Regions from separate parts of the Homo sapiens genome. Here all the other regions are linked to region 1. The links come from fine-mapping of genetic effects on gene expression. A gene starts in region 1. Each other region holds a variant in brackets. All regions are shown on one strand. Distances are between the middles of the regions.

The links. PIP is the estimated chance that this variant, and not a neighbour inherited with it, causes the effect.
Region 2: its variant is the best candidate, but not a certain one, in a credible set for the expression of ATG7 in whole blood (TOPMed, PIP 0.52).
Region 3: its variant is the best candidate, but not a certain one, in a credible set for the expression of ATG7 in whole blood (INTERVAL, PIP 0.74).
Region 4: its variant is the best candidate, but not a certain one, in a credible set for the expression of ATG7 in cerebral cortex (GTEx, PIP 0.70).

What each region holds. Positions count from the first base shown.
Region 1 is chr3:11,267,720-11,275,961 of GRCh38, reverse strand. ATG7 (autophagy related 7) reads right to left here and starts at 3,565. Exons shown (of 21, transcript NM_001349232.2): 1 at 3,532-3,565. RefSeq lists enhancers at 2,780-3,369, 3,518-3,647, 3,370-3,961, 3,918-3,967.
Region 2 is chr3:11,227,582-11,235,823 of GRCh38, reverse strand. All of the region lies in intron 1 of HRH1 (histamine receptor H1), which reads right to left. It also overlaps the pseudogene CHCHD4P4. Among named protein-coding and RNA genes, the nearest start is that of ATG7, 41 kb to the left of the region's middle. The variant ATAGAAC/C (reference allele first, on the strand shown) is at 3,379.
Region 3 is chr3:11,443,734-11,451,975 of GRCh38, reverse strand. All of the region lies in intron 20 of ATG7 (autophagy related 7), which reads right to left. Among named protein-coding and RNA genes, the nearest start is that of ATG7, 180 kb to the right of the region's middle. The variant A/G (reference allele first, on the strand shown) is at 3,797.
Region 4 is chr3:10,433,840-10,442,081 of GRCh38, reverse strand. The region is part of intron 2 of ATP2B2 (ATPase plasma membrane Ca2+ transporting 2); the gene reads left to right. Among named protein-coding and RNA genes, the nearest start is that of MIR885, 43 kb to the right of the region's middle. The variant T/C (reference allele first, on the strand shown) is at 3,978.

The DNA.
Region 1 (8,242 bases):
TGGTTAGAGTCCTCAAGGAAAGAGGATTTCCTTTCTGTACCACACACTCAAAGAGAGGCTGACAAACCAGAGCAAGTTCAAGGATGGTAACTGGGATGAAGGTGTGAGGAAATCCCAAAAGTGATCATTCTGAAGCCGGTCTGAGATGGAGTGAATAGGCTATTCCTCAGTCTGCCAAGATCATGGTAATACCTACTGACTACCAATTAACAGAGCAGCACCTCCAGTATTTATTGTCCCTTGATTATACAATCAGGCCTTAATCGCACTGGAGAAGGGTGGGGAGATCAGGAGATAGAAAGGGGAGAGGAAGCGGTGGCTCACGCCTGTAATCTCAGCACTTTGAGAGGCTGAGGCAGGCGGATCACGAGGTCAGGAGATGGAGACCATCCTGGCTAGCACAGTGAAACCCCATCTCTACTAAAAAAAAAAAAAAAAAAAAAAAATTAGCCGGGCATGGTGGTGGGCACCTGTAGTCCCAGTTCCTGGGGAGGCTGAGGCAGGAGTATGGAGTGAACCCAGGAGGCAGAGCTTGCAGTGAGCCGAGATCGTGCCACTGCACTCCAGCCTGGGCGACAGAGTGAGACTCCATCTCAAAAAAAAAGAAAAAAAAAAAAAGAGGAGAGGAAGACATTAGCGAACGTCATTTCCATGGGTAGAAGTGGACGACAGAGGCAAACTGAATTCCAAATAAAATCAGAGGTCAGGGTTAATCTATTAGAGACACTAGTCAAAGAATTTTGTTACTGCTCAATTCCACACAGCAAATTCATTTCTGCCCTCCCGTCATCAGGATCCTGATTCTTGTCCCCTTCTTCTGTTTCATCCTATCAGTTACCAAGTCCAGCAAATTCCACCTCCTTAATCTCTCAACTCCTCCCACTCCTCTCCATCTCCACTGTCACTGCCTTCATCCAGATCTTCATCCTGTCACCTGGATCACTGCAACTATACCCAACTGGTCCCCTGCTTGTCTTTTTCTGTCCAGTGTAATCACCACATTGCTGCCTGGGTAATTTAAAACAGATGAGAGGATGTCGCATCTGTTTTAAAATCTTCAGTGTCCTGCTCTCCACCCCCGCCCCCACATTTTAGAGTCCAAACTTCTGGGCCTGGCAATATTAATGACTACTGTTTATTGAGTATTTATCATCTACCAGTGTCAAGTGAGTAACATATCACCTCGTACAGTTTTTATTTCCCCTTCTTAGAGATGAGGAAACTGAAGCTTAGAAAGAAGTGACTTGCCCAGGGTCACAAAACTAGTTCAGTGGCAATGGGAATATTGGTACGCAGCTATCTTGGATCCCAAAGTCTATGTGCGGGTAACATGCTATTGTCCACAGGGCCCTTCACGATGTGGCTAGTGCTTACCTTTCCAGTCACCTCTCATCCTACACCTCCACACTGGCACTCCAGTGAACCACAAGCAGGCCATGCATTCTCACCTCTAGCCCTTTGCTCATCTCACTTCGAACCACTCTTCACCTGTCAGATCTCGTTCGTCCTTCAGGTCTTGGCTAAAGCAGCACCTCCTCACTGAAACCTTCTCTGATGAGTCAGCCTGACTTATGCGTACCCTAAGTCCTCCTCTACCAAACCTCCGCAATAGCTTCATGCCATACCGTTGCTATCTCCTTGGCTTAAAAAAAAAGTAAACTCTTTGAGGACAGGGATGTGTATCTTACTCATTTTTGTATTCCCAGCTTGCAGCGCAGTGCCAGACACACAGCTGAAGCTCAATAAATGTTTATTCTCTATAATGAGATGCTGGCTGGGAACGAAAAACGGAACCTGTGGTTGAGTAATGGAAAGTCCAGTACTCAGCTCTTAAAGGATTTCAAAATCATGTCACATGAGGGCAGGAAGGAGTTGGCCAAGATAAATGGAAGAGGAAGGGGAGATGTTCGAAGCAGCAGAAGCAAAGGGCTATAGGTGACACACACCTGCAAGCAGCTTAACAAGACTGGAGCAGCGTTGGGGGATGGGAAAGCAGTTTAGCAACATGAGCCATTCCAAGACTGGACTTTTCTTTATTCAAGTGTTAGGTCACTTCCTCAGGGAAGCCATCCCTGACTAGCTAGCTTTTATGCTTCCCCCCAATTACTGTCCATCCCATGACCCTGTACGTTTCAGAATCGGAAACACCTACCAACCCTTACTGACAATGCCGCCACCGCCACCACCACCACTATTATTAGAAGGTGCCATGAAACAGGGTTCTTTTTCTTCTTATTTTACTGATAGATCACCAGTGCCCACAATAATGCCAGGCACATAACAGGCAAATATTTGTTTTATTCATTCATCCAACAAATATTTATTGAGCATATATAATATGCTAGGCATTGCTCTATATGCTGGGGATATAACAAAACATGACAAAATTTGCTGTCACTGTTAAGTTTACTATGAGCAAATACATTAAATATGCTTAGCCTAGAGAAGAAAAGGTGAGAAGAGGAAGACAAACTAGCAGCTTTCAATGATGTATAGGGCAATTAAATGCAGGGGTGATTCCAAGAGCCTGAAGGAGGAACAGTGAGCTAAGATTACCGAGTAGCTGCTTTCAGCTCAACCTAAGAGTCAGAACTGGGGGAGGACCAAACAGGAGCAACCAGAAGTAGAAAGCTTTCTGTCACTGAAGAAATCTGGCCAGTGGGCAGAGGTGTCAGAGAAAAAAATCTAAGTAGTCAATGAAAAAGGGAGTCTGGGATCCAGAGGTCCCAAACTGACAGCCACAGATATGACTGGTTACAGTTGAACAGGGTTTTGTAAAAACTGAGTTGCCAATGTTTTTAAACGCCAGAATTACTTGCCAATTTTTAAAAAATGGCATCAGTCGCCAGTGTTTAAAAATCAGGAAACTGCACGCACGTGCACACACACACGGTTTGGCTTGTACTTCTCCAACATCATGTACGTTAGTACTGTACTTATAAAATTAGAAGTTTGACTCTATTTCTGACAAATGTTCTAACACCTATATTTACCTTACCGGATTGATTCTTATTGTGCATTAGTTTCTAACCCTGTAACCAAGGAATCGAGAATCTTCTTTCTCAGAAAGTAAACTTATTTAACCTCCTCACTTAAACAAATGGCGGATTATCATTCCCATTTTGCAGATGGAAAAGCAGCTTAGATGGGGAAGGAACGTGCCAGAGACAGCAAATCCAGACACAGCCAGGCTGGGAATCCAAATGTCCCATCTCCCGTGTTCCAACACTGAAGATTCTGAGCACTGCCTACCAAGAGGACAGGAGGGGCTGACTTAGGAAATCAGCACGAGCTTCCAAGTCAGAAGACCCCGGACTGAACCAGTCTGAGGGGACGCGGCTACAGACGAAGGGCGCCAGCCGGAATCAGTGAGTCCCTGGAGGAGGAAGGACCACCCAGAAACTGGCAGAGGAGGATCCTGAGACTTGCTGTGACCCTCGCCCTCCCTGGCGAGCTCGCCCCTTGACTCCAGGCCTCCAAAACCGGCCCAGCAAGACCCCACTACACCCTCGCCCGCCGCGGCTCACTTACCGCCGCTCAACTTCCGGCAACCACAGCTCTCTCTGAGGCGCGCGCCCCGATGACGCAACGCGGTCCTGCCCGCGCTTGCCACTGGGAAGCGGCGCGCGTGCGCAAAGGAGCAGAGGCATGCCGGGGAAATGCGCCCCTAGCACCGAGCTAAGTGGGAGGAACTTGAGTCGTGAGGAGGGCGGGGCATCAGGGGGCGGTGACGCCCCCGGGGGAAGCGATGGAGAGCGTCTCCCTTACCAGATGTCGGAATGTCTACATTCCCTTCAGGCTTTTAAGAAAGTGCCCACGTTCTCTCTTTTGATTTCAGAGGATGACAGGAATGATCACCATGGTCATTCTCCAGGAGAGGCGGCATCAAACGCAGCACAGGGGCCATCAGGGTGGCAGGTGTGGAGAGCCAGGAGATGAGAATTTTAGTAGGAAAAGGCCAGTGAACGTCGACAGTGACCAACCTGCCTTTTCTAAACCAGCCATCATTCTCACAGCTCCTCACTGTCAGTGAGATAAAGTTATTCCCTCTCAATACTTGGTTAGATACTCTGCGCGTGCAAAGCACTGGACAGGTGTTGAAGATACAGCAGTGATTATGACAAGTTTCTCTGTCTGGCCTGTAAGGCCTTTCACAAATTAACTCTGATATACCACTCTAGACTCATAACAACAAGAGCGATGACTGCTATTAATTAACTAGCCACCATGTTTTCAGGGTTTTACATCTCTAATCCTCACAAGAGTCCTGAAACATATCCCCAAGTTATATATGAAAGAACAGAATCTAAGAAAAGTTAGGTGGCTTGCTGAAAGTTAAAGGGCTTTTGGGCCAGGAACGTAATCTGAAGTTTGTTTGATTCTGGCAAATAAGAAAACAAATCCAGACTAATAAGGATACTTATTAGAAAGGATTACTGCAGGCCCGGCGCGGTGGCTCACGCCTGTAATCACAGCACTTTGGGAGGCCGAGGCGGGCGGATCACGAGGTCAGGAGATCGAGACCATCCCGGCTAAAACGGTGAAACCCCGTCTCTACTAAAAATACAAAAAAATTAGCCGGGCGTGGTGGCGGGCGCCTGTAGTCCCAGCTACTTGGGAGGCTGAGGCAGGAGAATGGCGTGAACCCGGGAGGCGGAGCTTGCAGTGAGCCGAGATCCCACCACTGCACTCCAGCCTGGGCGACAGAGCGAGACTCCGTCTCAAAAAAAAAAAAAAAGAAAGGATTACTGCAAGAAGTGAGAGAGGTGGGAGAGAAGGAACCGTGCAATAGCAGAGGGAGACTATTGCAATAGTGAGATCACTCTGACCAAAACATCCGCAGATGTTTCAATGGTTAGGGAAAAAGAGGGTTCCCCCACCCCCCACCCTCCCCAAAGGCAGGTAAACAAGGCTGGAAACAACCGAATATGGGAAGTGGGATGAAGGGGTGGCTTGATCAGATAGTAGATTAGAGAATGTTTTATCTTGAGGCCAACCTATTCTCAGTAGGGGTTGTGTGTGTCAGTCTCTGAGCCCAAGCTAAGCCATCATATCCCCAGTGACCTGCACGTATACATCCAGATGGCTTGCAGCAACTGAAGATCCGCAGAAGTGAAAATAGCCTTAACTGATGACATTCCACCATTGTGATTTGTTTCTGCCCCACCCTAACTGATCAATGTACTTTGTAATCTCCCCCACCCTTAAGAAGGTTCTTTTATAGTCTCCCCCACCCTTAAGAAGTTTCTTTGTAATTCTCACCACCCTTGAGAATGTACTTTGTGAGATCCACCCCCTACCCCCAAAACATTGCTTTTAACTCCACCGCCTATCCCAAAACCTATAAGAACCAATGATAATCCCACCACCCTTTGCTGACTCTCTTTTTGGACTCAGCCCACCTGCACCCAGGTGAAATAAACAGCCTTGTTGCTCACACAAAGCCTGTTTGGTAGTCTCTTCACACGGACACATGAGACAGTATGCTAGTTCAAGCTGAGAGTAGGTTAAAGTAAGGAGCCTGGGGAAAGGAAAGAAGCTTAACCCAAGTTTGGTTAATAAGCATTTTTTCCAACTGGTCAATGGAGACAAGCAGCTCTGTAATCATTTATGAGGCAAAGAATGGGAATTCAGAAGGACTGTGTTTGACCTTGCCACAGTAAACAAGGGAGGCAACCAGGAGTCATTTAAGTGACATGAGAATGGGTATTTCTTTGTAGTGAACATTTTCTGAAGCACAAAAAGGTTAAGAAAGATTTCTCTTTTTTGCTTTATCTTTTTTTTTTTTTTTTTTTGAGACGGGGTCTCCCTCTGTTACCCAGGATAGAGTACAGTGGAGTGATCATAGCTCACTGCAGACTCAACCTCCTGAGCTCCAGGGATCCTCCCACCTCAGCCTCCTGAGTAGCTGGGACTACAGGTGCATGCCATCATGCCGGGCTAATTTTCTCATTTTTTGTAGAGACTGGGTCTTGCTATGTTGCCAGGGCTGGTCTTGAACTACTGGACTCAAGTGATCCTCCCACCTTCACCTCACAAAGTGCTGGGAATACAAGTGTGAGCCACCTTGCCCAGCAAGGATTTCTTTTTCCTTTTTTTTTTTTTTTTTGAGACGGAGTCTCGCTCTGTCACCCAGGCTGGAGTGCAGTGGCACAATCTTGGCTCACTGCAAGCTCCGCCTCCCAGGTCCATGACATTCTCCTGCCTCAGCCTCCCAAGTAGCTGGGACTATAGGCGCCCACCACCTCGCCCGGCTAATTTTTTGTATTTTTAGTAGAGACAGGGTTTCACCATGTTAGCCAGGATGGACTCGATCTCCTGACCTCATGATCCACCCGCCTCAGCCTCCCAAAGTGCTGAGATTACAGGTGTGAGCCACCACGCCCAGCCTTTTTTTTTTATTTATTTATTTTTTTGAGATGGAGTTTCACTCTTGTTGCCCAAGCTGGAGTGCAATGGCGCAATCTTGGCTCACTGCAACCTCCACCGCCCGGGTTCAAGCGATTCTTCTGCCTCAGCCTCCCAAGTAGCTGGGATTACAGGTGCATGCCACCACACCCGGCTAATTTTTTGTATTTTTAGTAGAAACGGAGTTTTACCATGTTAGCCCGCCTGATCTCAAACTCCTGACCTCAGGTGATCTGCTCACCTCGGCTTCCCAAAGCGCTGCGATTACAGGCGTGAGCCACTGCACCTGGCCAAGAAGGATTTCTTAACCTTTACTGTCAGAGGCATTTGAACCAGAATGACTCCATCTTGAATAGGGGCTGAGTAAAGTAAGGCTGAGACCTATTGGGCTGCATTCCCAGGAGGTTGGGCATTCTTACTCACAGGATAAAACTGGAGATCAGGGTATGACAGAGGTCACAAAGACCTTGCTGATAAAGGTTGTGCTAAAGAAACGTGCCAAAACCCACCAAAACCAAAATGGTGACGAGAGTGACCTCTGGTCATCCTCATTGCTTATTATACGCTAATTATAATGCATTAGCATGCTAAAAGACACTCCCACCATTGCCATGACCTTTTACAGATGCCAAGGCAATGTCAGAAAGTTGCCTTATGCAGTCTGAAAAGGGGAGGAACCCTCAGTCCCAGGAATTGCCCACCCCTTTCCCAGAAAACTCATGAATAATCCACCCCTTGTTTAGCATATAATCAAGAAGTAACTATTAGCATAATCAATTGAGCAGCCCATGCCACCACACACTGCCTATGGAGTAGCCATTCTTTTACTCCCTTTTTTTCTTTTTTCTTTTTTTTTTTTTTTGAGATGGAGTCTCACTCTGTTGCCCAGGCTGGAATGCAATGGCGCATCTCTGCTCACTGCAACCTCTGCCTCCTGGTTTCAAGCAATTCTCCTGCCTCAGCCTTCCTAGAATATGGTGAGCAATTCTCCTGCCTCAGCCTCCCTAGAAGCTGGGATTACAAGAACACACCACCATGCCTGGCTAATTTTTGTATTTTTTTTTTAATACAAATGGGGTTTCTTTCTTTTTTTTTTTTTTTTCCAAGACAGAGTCTTGCTCTGTCACTGGGCTGGAGTGCAGTGGCGTGATCTCGGCTCACTGCAACCTCCGCCTCTTGGGTTCAAGCGATTCCCCTGCCTCAGCCTCCCGAGTAGCTGGGACTACAGGCACAAGCCACCAAGCCCAGTTACTTTTTTATATTTTAGTAGAGACAGGGTTTCACTATGTTGGCCAGGCTGATCTTGAACTCCTGACATCTGGTGGCCCGCCCGCCTCGGCCTCCCAAAGTGCTGGGGTTCCAGGCGTGAGCCACCACACCCAGCCTCCTTTGCTTTCTTAATAAACCTTCTTTCTCTTTATGGACTGTCCCAGAATTCTTTCTTGTGTGAGGTCCAAGAAGTCTCTCTTGGGGTCTGGATCAGGACCCCTTTTCTTTTCTTTTTTTTTTCTTTTGTGTGTGTGTGTGTGTGTGTGTGTGTGTGTGTGAGAGAGAGAGAGAGAGAGAGAGAGAGAGACAGAGTCTCACTCTGTCACCCAGGCTGGAGTGCAGTAGCGCGATCTCGGCTTACTGCAACCTCCATCTCCTGGGTTCAAGTGATTCTCGTGCCTGAGCCTGCCAAGTAGCTGGGATTACAGGCATGCGCCACCACACCCAGCTAATTTTTGTATTTTTAGTAGAGACGGGTTTTCACTGTGTTGGCCAGGCTAGTCTCGAACTCCTGACCTCAAGTGATCTGCCCATCTCAGCCTCCCAAAGTGCTGGGATTACAGAT
Region 2 (8,242 bases), 40 kb after region 1:
AGACAACACCTGCTCTATTTCAGCCAAACACCATAGAAAAACACTGTGCCCCGCTCCTGTCCTAGCCAGATGAGGTGAAGTGGGGAGGGCAGCCAAGACTTCCACCCTTGTCAAGCTGTAATGAAGTGACTCAACTCCCCTTGCTGGGGTGGCGTCCCCGCCATTCCTAGCAGGGAGCCGGGACTTGCATCCTGTCAGGTGGTGACAAGCCCTGCACCCACCCCCATGGTGTCAGTAGGGGTGCATGGGGAGCAGTGAGGAGGCACTCTCATCCCTCCCAGCTGGGGACTTATCTGCAGAGGCCTAGTGGGGAGATGGAGCTCCCACATCTGCTCAGCAACAGTGAGGAAGCCACGCCCTTCAAGTGTCAAGAGAAGCGAAGTGGGGAGCCAGGACGTCTACCTCCACCTGGAAGTAATGAGGCAGCATACTCTCCCCGTGTGTCCTCCGGCTTCCTCTGCTACAGCAGTGTCAGTCAAAAGCAGATAAATCAGGAGATTTAAATATGATCCTAGGTCTTATAATACCTAAAATTTCCATATTTCAATTGAAAATCATTTTTCACATCAAAAAATGAGAAGGGATTTCTAATAGCATTTTTTTTTTTTTGAGATGGAGTCTCACTCTGTCACCCAGGCTGGAGTGCAGTGGTGTGATCTCGGCTCACTGCAATCTCTGCCTCCTGGGTTCAAGCTATTCTCCTGCCTCAGCCTCCCATGTAGCTGGGACTACAGACACATGCCACCACGCCCAGCTAATTTTTTGCATTTTTAGTAGAGATGGGGTTTCACTGTGTTAGCCAGGATGGTCTCGATCTCCTGACCTCGTGATCCGCCCACCTCAGCCTCCCAAAGTGCTGGGATTACAGGCGTGAGCCACCGTACCCGGCCAAAACATTTAAAGTAATCATCATAAAAATGCTTCAACATGCAAATGTGAACACAATTGAGACACATGAAAAAAATAAGTCTCAGCAAAGAAACAGAAAATATAAAGAAGCAGCAATGGAAATTTAGAATGGAAATAATAATTGAAATAAGAACCCAGAGGTGCCCGCCCTGCCTGAGGAGAGGGAGGTCATGGCGTGAAGCTACAGCTGCTGCCACCGCCACTTCTGCAAGGTCTCAGGGCAGGGCTGCAGCCATGTCCTACTGCCGGCAGGAAGGGAAGGATCGAATCATATTTATAACCAAAGAAGACCATGAAACTCCAAGCAATGCAGAATTGGTGGCTGATGACCCCAACGATCCATACGAGGAGCATGGATTGATACTACCAATGAAGACATTAACTGGAACCGTCCATGCCTTGGGGGAATGGCCAGCGGCCCCTGTGGGGAACAGTTCAAGTCAGCCTTTTCCTGCTTCCACTATAGCACGGAGGAGATCAAGGGGTCAGACTGTGTAGACCGGTTCCGGGCCATGCAGGAATGCCTGCAGAAATACCCAGACCTCTATCCCCAAGAGGATGAGGATGAGGAAGAGGAAAGAGAGAAGAAGCCAGCAGAACAAGCAGAAGAAACAGCTCCCACTGAGGCCACTGCAACCAAAGAAGAGGTGGGGTCAAGTTAATGAAGGCCACAAGGCACTGGGCTCCAGTCCTTTTGGAGTGGACCTTTTGCAAAAGACCTTGTTGTCACCTTCCAAGAAAGTGTCTTTCCCTCTGTTGTCCTGTGCACTGTAATATACAAAATAACTTATTTTGATGATCAGGGGTCTTGACCTCTTGACACATACACTGAAAAAAAATGGGAGTTGTATGTATGTGTGTCCTACCCAAACCTGTGGCCGCCACTTTTGAATTCTCTTCTCAGATTGCCCTGAATTTTGCCACTTTTAAATCATGTGCTGAATAAGCTCAGCAACTAAAAACCATTACCCAGGAAGGTTTCTTGTGAGTGAGCTGATTTATTCTGATTCATTATATTCCTTTTAGTAGATATTATGCCCCTTGGGGAAATAATACAAGTAATAGAAACAAAAACATCTTCTCCTAAAAATGCTGGGGTGGGGCCTCTACTAGCAGAGGCCAGATGGTCAGATACGATTTCTGCAAACCCATCCTGACCTCGAGTATGTGAAGGGGTACTGTACTTCATTCCCGATACATTTTGGTTTCCATGTTGGCATTGAGCTCCTGGTTTTCTGTGTTTGGACGATGAAGATTTGGACCCTCCCATTCACAGTTCCTTTCTAAGTGAAGGGAGAGGCTGGCTTGGCTGTTCCTTGTTATTCTGAAAGCCCTGGTTTGGGGCCCATGTTCACACAGGCTCTCAGTCTGGTCAGGTGCAATGTTCTTGAGAGGTGGGGACCTAATTATTACCAGAGTAGCAGCAAGAGAGGAAACGTGAACTAAGTATTCAATTAAAAGGAAACATGATTTCTACCTGAAAAACAACAACAACAACAAAAAAGAACCCAATTGATGGACTCAAAAGCAAGAGGGTAGGAACAGAGGAAAGAATCAGTGAACTGGAAGATAAAACAATAGAAATTCCCAAATCTGAACATCAGAGAGAAAAGAGATAATAAACAAACAAACAAACAGAACTCCAGGGTCCTGTGGGACTATAACAAAAGATCTAACATTCATATAATCATAGTCCCAGAAGGAGATGAGAAAGAGGGTGGCAATGATAATGTGCTTTGAGAAATAATGGCTGAAAATGTCCCAAATTTGGCAAGAGACCTAAATCTATAGAATCAAGAAGCTGTTAACCAAACAGGATAAGCCCCCCAAATATACATCAAAGCACATAATAATTAAACTCTTGAAAATGAAAGACAAAAAAACTTGAAAGTATCAGAGAAAAACACCTTACCATAATGAGAATGATAGCAGATTTCCCACAGAAAACATAGAGACAAGAAGAAAATGGCATTATATTTTTCAGATGCTGAAAGAAAAGAGCTGTCAGCCCAGACTCTTATACTCAGTGAAAATATCTATAAGGAATAAAGGGAAATCAACACATTCTCAGACGAACTTGTACAGGACTGTGTGCTGAAAACTAAAACATGCTGATGAAATAAATCAAAGATGTAAATAAATGGAGAGTGTTTATGGATCGGAAGTCTCAACAGAGTAAATATGTCAATTCTTCCCAAATTAACGTACAGATTTAATACAATTCTTATCAAAATATCAGCAAGATGTCTTACGGATATAGACAAGACTCTTCTAAAATGTATAGGGAAAGGTGGAGAAACTAGAATAACTCAAATAATTTTGAGAAAAAGAGAATAAAATGGGAGAAATCGACCTACCCAATTTCAAAACTACTATATATTAATAGCTACAGTAATCAAGACTTTGTGGTATTGGCAAAGGAATAGACACATAAATCAATAGAATAGAACAGAGAGGCAAGAAATAGAA[ATAGAAC/C]CACACAAATATTCTCAGGTGATTTTTGACAAAGGTGCAAAATTAATTTAATGGAGGAGAGAAAGCATTTTCAACAAATGGTGCTGGCACAATTGGACGTCATAGGCAAAAAATGAACAACCTAAACCATATGTCTTTTAAAAAAATTAACTCAGGCTGGGCACCGTGGCTCATGCCTGTAATCCCAGCACTTTGGGAGGCCGAGGCAAGTGGATCATGAGGTCAAGAGATTGAGACCATCCTGGCCAACATGGTGAAACCCTGTCTCTACTAAAAATACAAAAATTAGCTGGGCACGGTGGCACGCACCTGTATTCCCAGCTACTTGGAAGGCTGAGGCAGAATCGCTTGAACCCGGGAGGCGGTGTTGCAGTGAGCCAAGATTGCACCATTGCACTCCAGCCTGGTGACAGAGCGAGACTCAGTCTAAAAAAAAAAAAAAAAATTAACTCAAAATGCTCCACAGACCATTAAGTGTAAAATGTAAACTACAAAACTTGTAGAAAAACACATTAGAGGAAATCTTCAGGATCCACAGCTAAGCAAAACGTTATTAGACTTGTGACTAAAACATGATCCATAAAAAGAAAAAACAATGAATTGGACCCCATCAAAAGGAAAATTTTCGTTCTGTGAAAGACCCTGTTAAGAGGATAAAAAGACAAGGAGAAAATATTTGCCAGCCACATATCTAAGAAAGGACTACTATTCAGAATATATAAAGAACTCTCAAAACTCAACAGTAAAAAGCAGACAATCCAATGAGAAAATGGGCAAATGATATGAGGAAACATTTCATCAAACAGATGATACAGATGGCACATCCGCATGTGAAAAGATGTTCAATATTACTAGCCATCAGAGAAGTGCAAGTCAAAACCACAACGAGATATCACTGCACAGCCATCAGAATGGCTAAAATAAAAGACAGTGGCAACACCAAATGCTGATGAAGACTGCAGAGAAACTGTGTCACTCATACATTTCTGATGGGAATGTAAAATGATACAACCATTCTGGAAGAGTATGGCAGTTTCTTAAAATACTAAACATGTAACTACCATAAACTTGAGTAATTGCACTCGTGGACATTTATCTCAAAGAAACTAAAACTTATTTGCCCAGAAAAAAAAACTGAACATGAATGCTTATAGCAGTTTTATTCATAATAGCTCAATGCTGGAAACAACCAGCTACCCTTTGATGGGTGAATGAGCAACCAACCAACTGTGGAATACTACACAGTAGTAAAAAGAAATGCACCAGTCCTATTCCCATCAACTTGGATGAGTCTCCAGAGAATTATGTGAAGTGAAAGAAGTCAGTCCCAAAAGGTTACTAACTGTGTGACATTTATGTAACATTCCTGAAATGACACCATTACAGAAATGGAGAACAGATTAGTGGTTGCCGGGTTTAGGGATGGGGGAGGTGAGAAGGAAAGGGGATGTGGCTATAGAAAGGCAACATTGGTGACGGAACTCTTCTGTACTCGACTGTCTTTATGTCCATATGTTGGTTGTGATATTTTACTACAGTTTTGTAATATGCTACCACTGGAGGAAATTGAGTAAAGTGTATGCAGGATTCCTCTATATTATTTCCTACAACTGAGTGTTCCTAAAAGGCTTAATGTAAAAAAAAACTCATATTGATACCTTGGCCGCACTCCCAGATTCCCAGCCACTATGGTTTAAAGGTCCCCAGGTGATCCAGTGTGCAGCCAGGATTAAACAAATCAGTGGTCTAGGCCAGTGCTTCCTAAACCTTCATATGCAAATAAGTTTTCTGAGAGTCTCATTAAAATGGCTCAGGAGGTCTGAGGTAGGGCCAGAGATTCTGCATCTCTAACAAGCTCCCAGGTGATGCTCATGCTGTTGGCCCACGAACCTCACTGTGTAGCAAGGGCTTTTACACTGTGGTTACATCCAGGTTGGGTTCATAAGAATTATCAGAGGAACTGTGAAATATATCGTACACTGGGATCCAGCTTAGTCGATTCAGTAGGATCCAGTAGGTCTGGACTGGTGCCGATGACTCTGTTTTTTAATAGCTCCCCTGGTGAATGTGGTGCCCAGCCAGGTTTGGGATCCAGCAGCAAGCTGCCTCTTGCTCCTTGATTCTTCTGTGTATGAGCTCATCTTGGCACCCAAGGCCAGTAATGGAATTTAAAGTTCTTGTCTTCACGCCCAGTACTTTCACTACCTTAGACCTGGAGTCAGGCCCTGGGACTTGGTCTCTCTCATCTTCCCCTGAACCTACCCAGTGGACTTCAGTCAGTGTCACCTCCCTAGAACATGCTCTGGTGTCTCCTGTCCGTCACTGGCCTTCTAGAGGCCAGCCACCTACTCCTTTTGTTCATCCTTTGGAGGCTGACTTGGTCTAAGCTCAAGTTTGCTCTCACCTGGGATACTGCAACAGCCCCCTATCTGGCCAGCCTGCTTCCAATCTCACCCCCTCTAGTCCCCACCCATGTCAACTGCAAGCAATCTTTCTAAATCCACATTTTTCTCCTTCAGTTACTAACTTATTCCCATTATAATTCTTGCTGATCTATGTCTTTCCTATACCACCATTTACTTTATATATGTATTTAAATGGATCCACTTTTTTGCCTAAGTTTATTTCACTACCACGTATGAAAAACAAGTTATCATTTTTTTTGTTATCTACAGAACTTTCCATAGGCATAAACAAGATGACAATAAAACAATGTGATTTAATTCTAGCCAGATATTGTGAGGAAGGCTTTGCTTTGTTAAAGAGAAACCTTAGCAAGAGTAAGATGGGTTAAAAACCCATCTTATATGGGAGGTTGAAAACCTCCCAGCACCAAATTGAGACTCTCTTGGAGGTAATCAGGACTGAAATATACAAGTTAAGACTTGAAAATCTGTGAGAGTCAATTTTAATTAATGGTACATCTCTGTACCATTTACAGTCACTTCAGGTAACACCCAAGATGTGGTAAACACCACTGTCTTAAATCTCGTCATATATTGTTTTGCTCCTAAATGCCTTGAAGGAAAAGTTCAAACTCCTTAGGCTGTTGGTATGACATTTCCTCCATATTTTGACCCACAGCACTCCAGCAAAAATGAACTTGCTGTCCCCAAACACCCCAGGTTCTTTCAGTTTTTGGGGGCTCTACACACAGTATTCTCTTCTCCAGGAAGAGGATGTGTCTTGCAGATTAGCATTTCATTTATGTTTACTATTGTCTCCTTATGGGCCTATTTCAGAGCCCATCTGAAACAAAGTAGGTGAGAAGAATGAAAAGGACAAAGGAAAGGTGGAAAGGTTGATAAAGAAGATGGGAAGAAAAAGGAAGGGAGGGAGGCAGAGGGAAGGAAAATGTCAATGAACTTCTATTTATTCTACGACGTCCATCTTAACTGTTCCTTCTTTTTTGAAGCTTTCCTGTATCCCTTAGCCATATCTAAGCATTTCTTCTTCTGGGTTCCCACAGTATTGTTTCCATATCTCTATTAAGGCATTTACCACTATATTCTTTTTTTTTTTTTTTTTGACATACTCTCATTCTGTCACCCAGGATGGAGTGCAATGACAAGATCTCGTCTCACTGCAAACTTCACCTCCTGGGTTCAAGCGATTCTCCTGTCGCAGCCTCCCGAGTAGCTGGGACAACAGGCACGCACCACCACGCCTGGCTAATTTTTGTATTTTTTTAATAGAGATGGGGTTTTGCCATGTTGGCCGGGCTGGTCTCAAACTCCTCAGGTGATCCACCCATCTCGGCCTCCCAAAGTATTGGAATTACAGGCATGAGCCACTGTGCTCGGCCCACTATATTCTACAGAATGAATTCAGGTGTCCTTCACGTAGACTTTGATCCCTACAAGGGCAGGAGCACTGTGATATTCACTTATATTTCCAGCACCTAGCCCAGTGGCTTTCAAACTTGGCTGCACATTGGAATCATGAACAGAGCTTTAAAAAAAATACTGATGCTGAGGACTCACCACTCCTGGATTTGATTCTGGTGTAATTGGTCTGGGGTATCTCTGGGTTTCAGGATTAAAAAAAAAAATTTTGTTAGAGACAGGTTCTCGTTCTGTTGCCCAGGCTGGAGTGCAGCGGCATGAGCACAGCTCACTGTGACCTTCAACTCCTGCCCTCAAGCAATTCTGCCTTGGCCTCCTAAAGCACTAGGATTACAGGCACGAGCCACTGTGCCTGGCCTGGATTTTTAAAACTCTCCAGATGGTTCCAATGCAACCAATATTGTGAATCACTTTCCTAACTAAAGCTGAATTATGGTAGGAGGAGTTCAGTAAGTGATGAATGAATAAGTAGATGAATCCTGCCTTTAACGCACCACAGTTCTGACCCAACATGACCACATTCAGAGTTTCATGTTATGCTAATTCATTAATATATTCAGGAACTATTAATTAAACAATAATGTGGTACCAGGTATTATGCTAGGCCAAGCCACTAGAGATGGAAATGTGAATAAGACTCCCAATTCTCCCCTCGTTTTTGATATGCCTTAGGGATGGCTGGGGCCTGTCCTAGTTCATCCAAGAACTTTCTGTCCTGCTGATTAATTGGCCAGCTCCAACAGCAATCATTTCCCTAGTAACTGATAGCAAATCTTACTTCTGGCTGCTTCCTCAGGCAAGTGCTATCTAAGGACAGACTCTATTCACTCTCAGAGAGAGGAAGTTCCTAGGGGGTGTGGGCAAGTCAAGAAACCACAAAGAAAGTGGTCTTGTCTAGATCTCTTCAAGCACTCCAGAAGTGAAAGGAAGATGCTCAGGTGCAGACCAGAGTCCTGTGCAGCTCAGACAGGCCTCCTTCTGGGTGTGTATTTACATAATGAAAAGGTAAGGCC
Region 3 (8,242 bases), 180 kb before region 1:
GATTGTCTATTCTGAACACTTCACAAAAATAGAATCTCATTTAAGAGATATGTATATGTGTGTGTGTGTGTGTCTGTGTGTGTGTGTGTCTGTGTGTGTGTGTGTATGTAAAGGCGTATATATATATAGAGAGAGAGATAGAGAGAGACAGGGCAGCCTGGGGTTTTTTTAATTTGTTTTTTTTTTTTTTGAGACTATAAACATATATATACACGTAATATTTTCTATGGTTGCCAATTCTTATGCTAGATGTTAGCATTACAAATTCGTATAAAATCTGTGTCCGCCTTCATAGTCCAACAACAAACGTTTGCTGAGTGTAGAACTCCCAGGAGTTCTCTCATGGACACAACAGCCACACTCACCCTCACATTAGCTGGCAGAGGCCCTTTATACCAGTGATACGCTTGGGCCAAGGGCCCCTGGGTTGAAAATCATTAGGTAGACACCATCCAGTGCCCTGTCTCATGTGCTGAACAGGGCTAGTAATGCCGACTTTCACTTTGGGAGGCCAAGTCGGGTGGATCACTTGAGGCCAGGAGGTCAGGACCAGCTAGCCAACATGGTAAAACCCTGTCTCTACTAAAAATACAAAAATTAGCTGGGCATGGTGGCATATGCCTATAGTGCCAGCTACTCAGGAGGCTGAGGCATGAGAATCACTTGTACCCAGGAGGCCGAGGTTTCAGTGAGCCAAGATCATGCCACTACACTCCAGCCTGGGTGACAGAGTGATATAGATCTCAAAAAAAAAAAAAAAAAAGTGTCAACCTTTACTTCTATTTTATCAAGTTCTTGTTCCAGCCTGTCCTTTTCAAAAGATACCCTCCTTGGTAAAGATTCCAAAGTTTTGGGTTTTCTTTAAATGTATGCATCCAATGTCTTTTTCATTTCATTAAGGTCAAATAAATATTTGTCCTGGGTTTCCAATAAGGTATTTGAGATTTTCCTGTGCCATAATGACTGTATTTGGTACAGGCAAGGCAATATACTAAGGTCTCTCTACAGATCTTGAAAATCAGATCAGCCTTGGAGGATGAAATTAGTAACAACTAATACACCCTGGAGGACACCAGCCCTTTGGAAGGCATTCATTGGAAGAGACTAGAAAAGCAGTTGAGGTTGGGAGTTTCTCATTTCAGGCAAAGTGACAAGGGAGTGGTATCAGAAAATACGATCTTAACTAAGAAAGCTAGAACCTATATCACTCTAGAAGACTGTTCACAAACGGTAGCAGGGCCCATGTGCAGCTTGGAAAGAGGAAGCTTAATGTGCAAAAATTTAATATCCCTGCAACTCTCTGGAAATTGGCAAGATGGTCCCTCAGAAGAGCAGATCTGTGTGGTGAGTGAGATATCACAGCTCCATGAGGTGAACACCAAACCTTCCAATCATCAGTTGTCTCCCATGTACTTATGGAGAATGGTAGACAAAACTCACTGAACTGCTTCATTTGTACATTGATCTCTTGTGACCTTGCTTTGTGGGAGTTAGTCCCAGAGAATCTTTATAAACTGGCAAGATTTTCTGACCTAAAGAGGTAGGATCTGTGGAAAATGATGACCTACCAAAGTACAAATCTAGAGAACTGAGGTTTGGAGAACATGAAAACCATGGTCAAACACGTGAAGGCCTGCCACTGGGAAGAGGAATTCAACTAGCAATACACAGGCCCAACTAATATGTAAGAAAGACACTACAAAGTAGTAGTTAAGAACACAGGCTCTGGAGCCAAACGACTTGGCTCTAACACTTACTGGCTCCATGACCTTGAACACTTAGGTTCCATGTGCCTTAATTTCTCCATCTGTTAAATAAAGTGATTGTGAAGATTTAATGAGATAATCCAAATAAATGCTTAGTACAATGTATGGAACACAGCAAGTTCTCAAGAGACTAGCCATTACATCATTATTATCCAAAGAAGAAACAGACCACCCTGTAAGATTTGGAAGGGAGCTCCCCCAGGACTCCTCCCACCCCCTGCCAGGGGTACAGAGAGACTAGTTTATTGAGGGCCAAACACAAAACTTGATGCTGTTGAATTTACTTCAACTCCAGGGCTTCCCTGCCCCTTAAACTCTTATAGACAACTCAAAATGAAAACGTGTTCTCAGCAGTTAATGCGTTTTCCATCTACAACCGCTTTTTTGTCCTATCATTCAACTAATATATATTTTTCCAAGTACTATGGCAAAGCGCCTGTTAGTGTTTGAGGGCACAAAGGGGGAAAGGTGTGGCCCTTGTCCTCCAGAAGCTTTGCATCTAACTGGGACAACGGGATTAGAAAACCACATAGTTCTCTGGTGATCCAAATACACACGTTAGATTTATGCCAAGCGTTCATCTGATGCTTGATTTAGCGAGCCATAACCCAAGGGAAGGGTCGGGAAAATCATTCTCTCTAGAATCACTCCATTGTATGGAACATGAGAAGCTTCTTTGTATACTAACTAAAACCAATCATACTCTCTCTCACCCTCTCAGTCTCAATCTCAATCTCTCTCTCCTTTTCATTCCCTTAAAAGTACAGCCACCAAGGGTAGTGAAGACTCTGGGGCCTTACAGGCCCCAAATCTCAGGGTTTTTTGTTGTTGTTGGTTTAAGAGATGGGGTCTTGTTCCATCACCCAGGCTGGAGTGCAGTGGCAATCATAGCTCACTGCAGCCTCAAACTTCTGGACTCAAGCAATCCTCCCACCCCAGCCTCCTGAATAGCTGGGACTACAGGCATGAGCCATCATGCCCAGCTAATAGGCTCATATTTTGGCCCACCTAGCTTATTAGTTAGCAGATGGTGAAGGCAGAGACAGTGGCCTCTGCATTACAAGCTCACGCTGCATTCCTTCACAGGATGTTTGAAGGCTTGTCTGTTATTTATTTGTAATTACTGCTTTAGCACTCATCTCCCTCCCATTTGTAAGTTCAATGAAGGGAAGGATGATGTGCTTTGTTCATCATGTCTTACAGTTAACCCTCAATACAGACTTTGTGTGACATTTTTACCCTAATTCCAGGTTTCTTTTAGGTTCCACAGAGTCTGGTTGCTACAGTTTAAGTATATTACTCTGGTGTAAAATGTCAGGCAGGGGAGAGAGACCCCCAGGGCCTGCCTTGGATTCTGTGGACAAACATCCAGGGACAGAAAACACTAGGAGGCTCCATTCATATTGGAACAGCGACCCCCTTACCCACCCCACTGCCCCGTTTACTGATGCCTCTGTTGCCTCAAGAAATTCATAGCACCTTCGGGCAGGGGAACAACAGTGTGGTGTTTATTGAAATCTACATCTGGCAGCAATTTGTTCAACAACAACCAGCTTTGCCTCCATCATTCTCTTCAGTCAAATAATCCACAGGGGCCCATGATACCCCACAACTGCTCATTTGTGCAAGGCCTGTATTGTGTTGGTTTATGTTCCTGATTACAGATTTGGTTTTATCAACAAGTTTCAGCACGGCAAGTAAGTTTTTAGACTATGGAGGAGACTAAAGGCACATGTCCTGAAGCAGAGATGCTGTCACTGAGCCTGGCCATCTGGGCTGAGAGATGAAGCCTCATGCTGACCTCAGGGGCTCCAGCTCCTGAGTCCACCCTGGGTGAGCAGAAGCAGCCAGAGAGAGCACTCCCCTTCCCCGCCCCAAGAGGTGGCCTCAGGAGAGCATGGAGGAGCCTGGAAGGAGGAAAAGCCTAGAATGAGGCTTCTGTGTAGCAAGGAGAAAGGAGGAGGCACTGTGCTCCAATCTCAGAGAAAGTTCTTTGTTTGGAGGTGGTGGTAAGGAAGACTGTGCAGCTA[A/G]TTTTTTCAAAGCCTCAGTGAATAAAGACTTCTTTTCTGGTATCTGTGGTTAGGTGAGAAGATGGGGGTAAATCCAGAAAGCAGAGTGAGTCAAGCTTGGGGACAAATCTGGGGACTGGAATTTCATGACTTTCACTCAACTCCTTAATAATGAATTGCTGATAGAAAAGCAGCATTGTTTGGAAGGGACAGGAACAGACACAGGAATAGAACTAAGAGGAGACTGAACTTACAATGGACTTCTATCATATATGCCCAACACCCATCCATCTGCATCAGTTTGTTGAGGAGGACCATCCCCCATCACTCCAACCGTGTAGTTCTGAGGGAGGCTGCCAATCAGTATGACCTGCCCCTGGCCCAGGCTGGCCAATCATGGCAGCCCTTCCCTTTCTACTGCCAGCTGTCCAGAGATGGCATGTGACCCAGGCCTGGCCAATCACAGTCCTTATCTGGGATTTTCTTTTTGGAGCCACTAGGAAAGATTTCTTAATGTAAGAATGAGATTTTGGAACTGCCCGAGTCCATGTTTCTTGCTATATGGGGAAGAAAAGAACTTGTTGGTAGTGAGAGAGAATAAAGCCAACAAAGAACAGAGCTGATGAACACTAAGATGGTCTTGACACTAAATGCCCCCATCTAGAGTCCTTGAAGCCCAGATTTCATGACCTGGTTTCATTAAGCAATAAATTACTTTTTTTTTTTTTTTCCCTGAGACGGAGTCTTGCACTGTTGCCCGGGCTGGAGTGCAATGGTGTGATCTCGGCTCACTGCAACCTCCACCTCCCAGGTTCAAGTGATTCTCCTGTTGCAGCCTCCTGAGTAGTTGGGATTACAGATGCCTGCCACCACACCAGGCTAATTTTTTCTATATTTTTAGTAGAGATGGGGTTTCACCATGTTGGCCAGGCTGGTCTCGAATTCCTGACCTCATGATCCACCCGCCTCAGCCTCCCAAAGTGCTGGGATTACAGGCGTAAGCCACTGTGTCCAGCCAATAAATTACTCTTTTATGCTAAAAAGAGTTCAAGCTTTTGGTTTCTATCACTTGTAACCAGGGTATGGATGGCTACAAAAGGTTTTTCACTGAAAATGACTGCTATGATGATCAAGTGAGTAAATGCAAGTAAATGCCCTCTGAAAAAGACAAGGTGCCACCCAAGTGTCAGATACTGATCACATGTGATATGGTTACATGTGACAGACGGACACTAAAAAACACCACTGACTTGATGTCAGGCAGTAAATTTCAGAAAACTTTTTATTACAGAGACCTTTGAAGATACACAGAGGTAGATGGACAACACGATGTCTCTCATACCTCCCCAGCCCCAATAACCATCACTCATGGCCCAGTCCAGGAGACCAGTGATTTCAACCACCTCCCCCTGGAGCATAGCTGGTTCACCTTGACTGTGCCTTGGTTCCAGGCCCAAGTAGCCCCTTGACTGGATTTAGAGGTTGAGTCCCTGGCAGTGGGGTAGCATCTTACAGGAAGAAGTCAAAAGTCAGGAATTCATGAATTCAGTCTGGTCAGGCTTGCAGTCTGCTCAAGTACCATGATGTATCATGTGCCTCATTCTTTTAAAGGCTCATTTATGACATTTTAACACTGTCATTGGATGTGTGTTTTGTCACAGTAGGTATCAATGTAAGAAAATCTTCTTAGTGCTAAAAGTAAACCAGATACAATAAAGTATTTTGAATGATGACGCCAAGTTTCCCCTACGGACTAAATTAAGGAGTCTCCTCCTTTATATAACGCATTTACAAAAGTAGATTATAGTCTTACAAATAAAGAGTCTCTGGCATACTTAATTCAGGGTGCAGACAAGGAAGATGATTGAAACCATGAAATCTAGGTGTTAAAGACTTATTCTATCGTTATCACAGAATGTTGAAATGGATATAGTAACCTTTAATCCAATTTAATCAGGCTTTCTGGTGCAGATGTGGTCTAAACATTTTTTTAAAGCATCCTAGATAATTCTGATGGGCAGCCAAGGTTCAGAACTGCTGCTCTAACCCAGCCAATACTTTTATTTAGCAAATGAGGATGCTGAGGGCCAGAGGTGTGGGACTCTGACCAAGTCAAACATCTGGGATTAGAACAAAGGTCGCTGGGCTCCATCATACTTTTCAAGTGAATAACTAGGTCATCCTACTGTGCTTTCTTTTCACAGGGGCTACACAAGCATAACATATGAAAATTTTTGGAGTTGAAGTAGAGAAACTATCAGAAAAGAAGAATCCAAATAAGTAATATACATAAGACGTTTAACATCATCAGTGATCAGGAAAATGCAAAGTAAAAGCCTAATATGATACTGTTATACAGATTGGCAAAAATTTTAAAATGTGACAGTACCAAGATTCTGGCAAGGATAAGGGACCACAGAAACTACCATATACTACTGGTATTCATGTAAGTCAGTGAACTGCTTTGGAAAACAGTCATGATTTAATAAAATTGAAGATGCATATTTTCTTTTTTTGAAACTTGTAAGTTCAGGGGTATATGTGCAGGCTTATTATATAGGTAAACCCATGACATGGGGACTTGTCGTACAGATTATTTCATCACCCAGGTATTAGGCCTGGTGCCCATTAGTTATTTTTCCTGATCCTCTTCCTCCTCCCACCCTCCATCCTCCACCAGACCCTAGTGTGTGTTGTTCCCATGTGTCCATGTGTTCTCATGATTCAGCTCCCACTTATAAGTGATAACATATGGTATTAGGTTTTCTGCTCCTCGATGAGTTTGTAAGGATAAAGGCCTCCAGCTCCATCCATGATCTTCTTTTTTATGGCTGCATAGTATTCCATGGTGTATATGTACTACATTTTCTTTATCCAGTCTACCACTGATGGGCATTTAAGTTGATTCTATGTCTTCGCTATTGTGAATAGTGCTGCAGTGAACATCTGTGTGCACGTGTCTTTATGGCAGAATGATTTATATTCCTTTGGGTATATACCCAGTAATGGGATTGCTGGGTCAAATGGTATTTCTGTTTATAGGTCTTTGAAGAATCTCCACACTGCTTTCTACAACGATTTAACTAATTTACACTTCCACCAATAGTGTATAAGCGTTCCTTTTTCACCACAACCTCGCCAGCATCTATTGTTTGACTTTTTCATAATAGCCGTTCTGACTGGTGTGAGATGTATTTCACTGTGGTTTTGATTTGTATTTCTCTAATGACTAGTGATGATGAGCTTTTTAACATATGCTTTTTCGCCACATGTATGTCTTCTTTTAGAAGTGTGTGTTTATGTCCTTTGCCCACTTTTTAATGGGGTTTTTTCCTTGTAAATTTGTCTAAATTCCTTGTAGTGCTGGATATTAGACCTTTGTCAGATGCATAGTTTGAGAAAATTTTCTCCCATTCTGTAGATTATCTATTTACTGATAGTTTCTTTTGCTGTGCAGAAGCTCTTTAGTTTAATTAGATCCCATTTGTCAATTTTTGCTTTTGTTGCAATTGTTTTTGGCATCATCATGAAATTTTTGCCTGTTCCTATGTCCAGAAGTAAGGGCCAGGATGTCTGGATGTCTTCCAGGGTTTTAATAGTTTTGGGTTTTACATTTAAGTCCATGGTCCAGAAGAGGCATATTTTCTACGACCCAACAATTCTAGTATGAGATAAATAACTTACAGTATGCCTTCACAAAGAGGGTGATATCACCCCCAAAGGAGCAAAAATTGGTCTTTGGCAGGCAAAAGAAATCTTAGATATGACAGTGTTTAGTGGCTCTCCAAAGCTCAGCCCTATCTGACAAACCCTATTCTTTAGTATTAATTAAATTCTAAACTGTTGGCATTAAATTATCCCCCTAGGAGGAGTGATAATGAAAAGAAGGTTGAGAAACACCCAGAGAAATGCTGCACATGAACCCCAGGAGATATATACCAGAATGCTCCAAACAGCACACTTCATTATAATCTGAGACTAGAAATGCTACCGTAGAGGAGAAATTTCAATATATCCAATTATGAAACACTACATAGCAACGAAAATGAACTTTAGCCGCACAGCAAATGGGTAACCTTTACAATATTGGGCAAAACAAGACACGAAAGAATCTACATATTATAGCATAATTCTGTTTGAAAAATTCAAAGTCAGGCAAATAGAATTATATTGTTTAAGACCCATATACCAGACTGAAGTTGTACAGGAAAAGTTTACTGTTTCTAGTTACTAGTTACTTCTAGGCCTGTGGTCAGAAAGTAAAATATGAGATGGGTGAAGGGCAACGAGAGTATTTTTTGACCTGGGTGTTTAATTCATACTTGTTCTCTATATAAAATGTTTTAAGCTTTTTTCTGCATATGTTATAGCTCATTTGGAAATATTAAAATATAAGAGAAAAAAGCAGGGGGGGAAATTTTCTTGATCTTTGTCACTTTAACTTTTCTAAAGCTCAAGTTATTCCTC
Region 4 (8,242 bases), 830 kb after region 1:
CAGCAGCCCCTTGAGTAGGACACAAAGGCTTGGAGAGGAAGGGGGCCCTGATTCTTACTATGAAGGCATTATCATTTTGCAGAATCAATATGCACTAATCACTAAGTGCCTACTATGTGCCCAGAAAAGGGAAGGAATATGGAGACCATTGACTTTGAGTCCCAGCTTCACCTTCTAAGTCCTTAAGTCATCCCCTCACTCTGAACCTGTTTCCCCACCTGTAAATGATATGATAATAACACCCACCTCCTAGAACTGATGGAACATCTCCATTGCTTCCCCCTGCTTCTAATATGCCAAGCAGTGATGGAGGTGGACACACATTTATTTATTGGACAAATATATGTTATGCACCTAGTATGTGCAGGCTTGGGCCACATGTACTCTTCTGGGAAGAGACCCAGATCTCTCCCATATGCTTTCTCAGGGGCAGTGTCTGTGTGATGTGGCTACACACAGGACAGGTGGGCAGATGGGGACAGGGCCGGCCTTCAAGGATATCCCTTCTTGGTTCAAGGGGGCAGAGGATGTCAGACAGGAAATGTCGGGTGCAGTGGCTCGCACCAGTAATCCCAGCACTTTGGGAGGCCAAGGTAGGTGGATCACTTGAGGTCAGGAGTTCGAGACCAGCCTGGCCAACATGGTGGAACCCCATCTCTACTAAAAATACAAAAATGAGCTGGGTGTGATGGCGCACGCCTGTAATCCCAGCTACTTGGGAGGCTGAGACACAAGAATCACTTGAACCCGGGAGGCAGAGGTTGCAGTGAGCCGAGATCAGCCTGGGTGACAGAGTGAGACTCTGTCTCAAAAAAAACAAAAAGACAGGAAACAACTCCAGGGGCACAGAGGCAGGCAGGAATCAATAGGAAAGATGGCAGCCAAGGGCAGGAAGCCAAGGCCTCAGTGTAGCCAGGGGGAGGAAGGAGGAACCCCTTCCAGATCCCCTTACTCTCCAAAGCTCCCTATAGATTCCCAGGAAAGGGAGGTGCAAAGGTGGATTGTAAACTGCTCCCGCCTTAAGACTGTCCCAGTCTAGCTGTGCTACTAGTTACTAGCCACGATGCTAGTTATAGCTGTGATACTAGAGAATAATTAACATGCATTGAACACTAACAGCAGCCAGGCTCCCTGCTGAGGCTTCACGGCATTTTCTCCTATAATCTTCACATCACCCCTGTGAAACAGGAACTGTCATCATCCCAGCTTACAGATGAGGAAATTGAGGCTCAGAGCACCACGTCTAACAAGTGACCTGGCCAGGATTGGTGCCTACACTGTCTGGCTCCCAAATGTGCACACATGACCTCCTCGGTCTGCTGCTTTCTATTGACAAAAATAACTACTGCAAGAGGAAATGTTCTAAAGGTTGATGAAGGAGGAGTGATCCCCACCTGATTGGGGACAAAATCAGGAGTAGCTTCCTCTGAGTGAGGCCTGAAAGGACAGGGCAGAATTGAGTGTGCAAAGATGGGGAGGGAAGCACACGCAGTTAATGGGGCGTGAGCAAAGGCCCTGTGATGACAACCAGGATGTGTACAGGGAACAGTGAGGAATTCGCTGTGCCTGGAGCCTAGAACAGATCGCAAAGCACAGAGGACTCCAGCCCATGAACTACAGATTCATTTTTGTAGACTCTGGTTTTTAGTCTGTTTGTTCATGCTGTGTATGTAGACTGTCAGGTTGGATAATAGTGTTTATGTCCCTGTGAGTGTGAAATGGGCCTCCAGCTCCATAAGATGAGGCCCTGAGTACAGCCTTCTCCAGGTGCATGGAGAGCCAGTGAATTCACTGAATGCAGGGAAACCGAAGGTTGGGGAAATGGTTCTCACACTGGGTTCCCCAGTGCCTTGAGGTTCCACAGAAGTGCCCTACAGGACAAGGGGATGCTGAATGGATGGGACTCTGGGGCTTCTCACCCACCACCATGAACCAGAGACAGAGACACTCCTTTTTTTTTTTTTTTTTTTTTTTTTTTTTTAGATAGAGTCTCACTCTGTTGCCCAGGCTGGAGTGCGGTGGCACGATCACAGGTCACTGCAGCCTCGACCTCCTGGGCTCAGTGATCCTCCCACCTCAGCTTCCCAAGTAGCTGGGACTACAGGCATGTGCCACCATGCCCAGGTAATTTTTTTTTTTGTAGAAACAGGGTTTCAAAAATTAGCCGGGTGTGGTGGTACACGCTTGTAATCCCAGCTATTCAGGAGGCTAGGCACAAGAATCACTTGAACCCGGGAGGCAAAGATTGCAGTGAACCAAGCTGGTCTTGAACTCCTGGCCTTAAGCGAACCTCCTGCCTCAGCCTTCCAAAGTGCTGGGATTACAGGCATGAGCCACTGTGCCCGGCCTGATACTCCTTTTTAAATGCTTTGAAGACTTTGGTTTTTTAACAAAGTGTTGAAAAAAAGAAAAAAAAATTGAAAACCTCTGATACTGGAGAAAAATGCTAAACTAGAGTATCCAAAAGCCTGGGTTGGGGCACAGATCACATAAGTTCTTAATGCATCATTTGTTAAATCTGTGAAATGGAGCAGACACTGTCTGGCTTCCAGGGGCCACACTGACTGTGGATTAAATGAGAGAACACACAATGTGCCTGGCCCAGGGGTCTTAGGCGAAGTTGGTCTTTGCGGGGGCCCCAAGGGGATGCATGTGACTGTGCAGGAAAAGGGTGCTCAGTCCACCCATGCTGGGCAGGGGCGGAGACCAGCCTGACTTTGGCCCTTATCGACTGAGACCCTCTCCAAGCTCCCTCCACCCTGTTCCATGCCTCAGCCTCCCCATCTGGAAAATAAAGAAGGTTGGTCTAGTAGTCTCTGAGGCTTGTCCAGGCTCAGACATTCTACTACTGTGAAACTGTCTGCCTTGATGCCCCCATTCTGTAGACATCAGATGGGTCAAAGGGTGGCTGACTCACAGCCAGACTCCAGGCCTCTCTTCACTTGAAAATTCGTGACCTCAAAACCTTGGCCCATCAGTGCCCAGGCCAGGGCAGTGCCCTTGGCCCTTGGCCCTTTGCCCCAGGCCTTGGCCCAGCAGTCCTTTTCTACCAAGCAGCTTCAGGGCCCTCCCACGCTGGCTCCCAAAGGTCGGGTTTAGCGGGGGACCAGAATTTGGGCATCCCTGGCAACAGTTCTCTAGCTCCCAGAAGCCCAGGGGCCTAGACCCCAGTTTCCAATTACTTCTCCTCCCTGGGTCTCAGTTTCCTCATCTGTCACACGGGCCTAAGGGGTGAGAAATGTTGCTGTATAACTGCAGGCGGGCCGTCTCGAATGCTAGTAGGACCTGAGTCATCCACCCAGCCTGGGTCCCACAAACGCCTCGAGTTCAGCTGGAGAGATCCTCTGCCTCCAGGCCTGCCTGTCATCCGAGAGGCCCAGACAGGGCGGGTAAGTTATTTATACAGGCCCTCCTCACCCCACAACGATTATCTTACTCCTCCTGGTGCAATCCAGGCCCCTGCTGTGGTTTCAGACCCAGAGTTATTTATAGTCAGTGGAAATTAGTGCCTCAGCCGATGGCTCCCTAGGACCCACCTGCCCTAGCCTCCACCCCAAAGGGAGAGAGCAGGCAGCAGGCAAAGAAGATGTCAGAGGTCGGAGGAGAGTGTCACATGCAGGTACAGTGTGATGAGAGTATCTGACACTGGATTGGCAGGCAGTTGGACAGAGCAGTCGCCAGGAAGTAGGACGAAGGAGAAACGGCCCACACTGAGGAGGGCAGGCTGTTGGGTGAGCCCTTGGGAAAGCTCTGCTGGAAAGAACAGCAGAATGGAGTGTTCCCTGGGGCCTCCCCCTTCAGCACACCCCAGCTCAGTGGGGTCAGAGCAGCTGGAATAGGAGCCTGAGAGACTCATGGACCCATGAGACAACAGGTCTGGAAGGGCCTTCAAGGACCATCTGATTCAGTAATCCCAGGGTGCACATGGGGAGACTGAGACCCAGGAGAGAAGGGACTTGCCCAGCACACAGTGGGTA[T/C]GGGCCAGGGGGCAGAGACACCCGCCACCCCCCTCCCTGCTCTCCCCTGCAACCTCCTGGCTCCCTGCAGAGCCTCAGCTCAGCCACGCCATCCAAAGACCACAGACTGAGTGGCTTAAATGACAGAAATTCATTCTCTCACAGTTCTGGAGGCTTGTAGATGGCCATCTTCTCCCAGTGTCTGTTCACATTATCTTCCCACTATGCATATCTGTCTCTCTGCCCAAATTTCCTCTTTGTATACGGGTGTCAATCATAGCATGGATTAGGCCCACCCTAATGGCCTCATCTTAATTTAGTATCTGCAGTGTCCCTATCTCTACAATGACTCTATCTCCAAATACCACCACAATTTTAAGGTACTGAGGGTTAGGACTTCAACATATGGATTTGGGGGAGCATGATTCAGCCCAGAACACTCTGACATGGGAAAACCACTTCAGTCCTCAGAACTGAAGCTTTCGCTTCTGTAAAGTGGGGACATGAACAGGACAGCAAGCGGACTGTAATGAGGGACACGCTCACTGCTGTACTGATGTGTCTGTCCCCCAAGCCCGATGCTCAGTGGGCGTTAAGAAGTGGGCGTTAGGAAGTGGCAGTGTGGTGAGAGAGTTAAGAGGCAGACATCCTGGGTCTGAACCCCAGCTTTGCCACCCACTAGCTATGTTGTGCTGAGGAAATGACATCACCTCTCAGAATCTGTTTACTCAGTCTGTGAAATCATTCTTATTCCTGGGCTGTGAGAAGTAATAAATGAGCTGATGTGAGTCAACACACTTAGCACTGCCCAGGAAACCCCTGGAAGTGGAGACCATCATCATTATTATTATTACTATTACTATTATCATTATCATCATCATCATTATATAGGTTAAGAAGCTGAGGCCCAGAGAGGGAGGCATCTTGCGCAGCCTCACACAGCCATCTGGCACAAAACTAAATGAGAACTCAGGTCTCCCAATCCACAGTCCCAGATTTTTCAACCACGTCTCTATGTGACACTAAAGGGGAAAAGAAGACAAGTAATTCCTAAGTGCCCCACATTAGGAAAGTAACTAAGTACCTTTTAGCTTCTCCACGTGCCTTTGGGACATTATGGAAAAAGATTGTTACAGAGAATGCAAAGCCACGTGGATGAGGCTCAAGAAATAATGTGATGTTGAAAAAGTGGGTTTAGCATCGTATGTCCTGACAATGGCAACACCTCCACGAAGACAGATGCAAGGGGAAAGGGGCTGGCAGGAAACATCTAGAATGTACCCCATGTTGTGGCTGAAGGGTGAGACTGGGGTGATGGTTCTTTCCTCAGCCTGTTTCTGCCTGTGTGCCGATGTCGCTCCACTAAGGCACGTCGGTCGTAAACAACAGAAGCTGACTGGGCAGCATAGTGGAGGCAAGAGGGCAGCTTAGGAGTGGGCTCTCCAAGTTGGAGCAAAGGCTGGAAAACCCAGCTCAATTTTCCAGAAGGAAACGGGGACATGCAGGGATCAGTGGCACGACTCACTAAGTAAATGTCCCTTTGGGGAACTGCAGGTTGGGAAAAATCCACTACAAAAGCTTCTTTTGGTCCTTGTATAGCTCAGGATTCCAAAGCAGCCTGTGCTGGTGAATGTTAACCCCAGCTCTCTAGTTGCGAGGGAATCCTCTTTTGCAGTGGGTGCTGATTTCCTTGGTGTAAATACCACCACGTTACCCACGTGACATCATTAAACACAGAGTTGGGACGAGAGGCGCAGCCGCACACCATTATACGGTATTTCTACCATGCAGATACAATAGACTGTCTACTAGAGAGAATAGATAATAGTGAAATGTAGTAAAATAATTAGGAGGTGATAAGTTTGGGGTATTTGTTGCCTTTTAAAATATAATTTATATAATTGTAGGTTTATATAATTGATTTCTAATGATGGCTATAATTAACAACCAGCTCACAAAATACCTGAAATTTTAGCCATCAGCTCTCACAAGCAAGTGTGAGCTGGCACCAGCAAATCACTGATTCTACGTCCCAGGAGACAGCATCCCTGGGAGGTGATTGGCCTAGCTTGATCACATGCCCACGCTTAGGCCAGGAAGGTGGGGACACTTTGACTGATCGTCACCAAGACTCTTCCCAGTTGGGGAGACCAAATCCCCTAAAGGAAAGCAGAATGCCACTGGACAGCCAAAACTCAACACAGGCCTTTGCTTCTCTTCTTGATAATTTCTTTAAGCTGTAGTTTTTTCTTTTATAATATCTTTTTTATTTCTTTTTTAAATTCATAGTGCTTGAAGTCCCAGAGTCTTTTAAAAAGGCTCCAGGGCTCAATTCTGAGAACAGTGAACTGAAGGACCCAGCCAGGAGAGGTACGGAGGCTCAGAGCAGCCATACCCACCTCTACCTCCTCACTTCCCAACCCCTCCCACCTTCTCCAGAGTGTAAGTAAATGAGCTAAACCTCCTGCCCACCTGTCACCCTGCCTGAAAGTCCACCTTTACAAGTCCCCCAAAAGAACATAGGCAGCCCAAGTTGAGAAGTATCTTAGGGCAGAGTCTTCACAAATACCCGTAAGGCAGATGAGGGTGAATGGGAGCCTCAGAGGTCTGGAGTGGCCCAGATACTGGAGAAGTGCTCTTGAAGGCTTAGGCCTCACCTCAAAATGGGGACAGGGTGGTCATCCTAAGCCTAGTGAATTCATGATTGACTGCGAGGCCTGTGGACCCTCCAGGAAGATGTAGGAGCTCAGGTGGCCAGGGTGAAGAACCATACCACCCCCTCAATGAGAACCTCAGACCCCCCTGCTTCCTCCTTATTTGGGACCACCTGGTGGCCAGCAGAAGACCAGGGGATCTGATTTAGGATGGGAGCCGGAGGGAAAGTGCTGCCCCATGCTCCGGTAATGGTCCGGTTGGGGGGTGACCACCTTGTGTCAACAGCTCAGGCCCTGACGTGGGAGATGCCACTCCTACCCCCATTTTGCATGTGAGGAAACCGAGGCACAGAGGGGTTGACGGACTCGCCCACGTCGCACAGCTGTGAAAGGCAGGCCTGGATGAGACCAGACCTTGTGCTCTTAACCATTTGTCAAAGGGAATGAAGGGTCATTCCTAGAACTCTCTTCCCCCATAGAGGGCACAGGATGCTGGCTCAGAAGCCTGAAAGTTTTCAGTTGCTCCAAACCACACTGGGGCTCAGGCCCAAATATGAGGAAGAGGGGCCAGGGGAGGGGCCAGGAAGATACCTGATCTGCCAATGGGGCAACTGAGAATTTGACCCCAATTTCCAGGCCTCACTCATCTGCCTCCTTCTGGCCAGTGACATCCTCAAGGGCACCTCGGCCTGGGCCTCATGGGCTATAAGTAGATAAATCAAAAGTCCCAGACCCAGGGGTTGGAGGCTGTCAGCCCTGGAGCTACTTGACAGGGCCTGGCCATGGGGCACCATGAGACTGGGAGTCCAGCATTGGCTCCTCTGCTCACTCACTGTGTGGCCTCAGGTGAATCATTTTCCCTCTCTGAGCCTCAGTTTCTTCATCTGAAAAAGGGGTCCAGATATGCCTACCTACAAGGTTGTTAGGAAAATTAAATGAGAATAATGTATTACAAGCCCCTCCCTTTTTTCTTCCTCTCCCATTTATGGCCAGAGTAAACTTAAATACAAGTCAGGTTGTGCCACCACCTGCTGAAAACCCTGTGGCTCCCACTGCTCTCAGAATGAAATCAAAACTCCTCACTGTGGCCTGCAGGCCTGGTATGATCCAGCCATACCCTGTTGCAGGAGGGCCTCAGGGACAGGCTGCCAGGGCCACAGGAGATCAAAGTCCCCAATCTGTAGAAACCCAGAGCTTCCTTTGAAACTACAGATCTTTCCCCCGTCTGCTAATGTCATTTGAGATTCCATAATAAGTTAAAGATTGTAACTGAAAATAAATGATGATCATGTTTAAGTTGTGCCCTGAGAGTATAGATGTTCTGCTTCTTACTATTCTCTGAGAAATTTTGGCACATCCCCTAGTGGGGTATGCCCCACCCCCTAGCTGAGAATCACTGCATTCATTTACTAATTCAAATAAGCTGCTGCATTTTTTTTTTTACACTTTAAAGAACAATTTATTGGGTAACTACTTGGTGCTAGATGCTGTCCTAGGAGCTAGGTATATAGCAGTGAGCAAAACCAACAAAGATATTCTTCTTCACAAAGCTTCCAGGGGTCCAGAAAAAAAAATACAGAATAAATTAATGAATAACAAAATATCGAGTGGATAAGTGCTTTGAGAGTGACT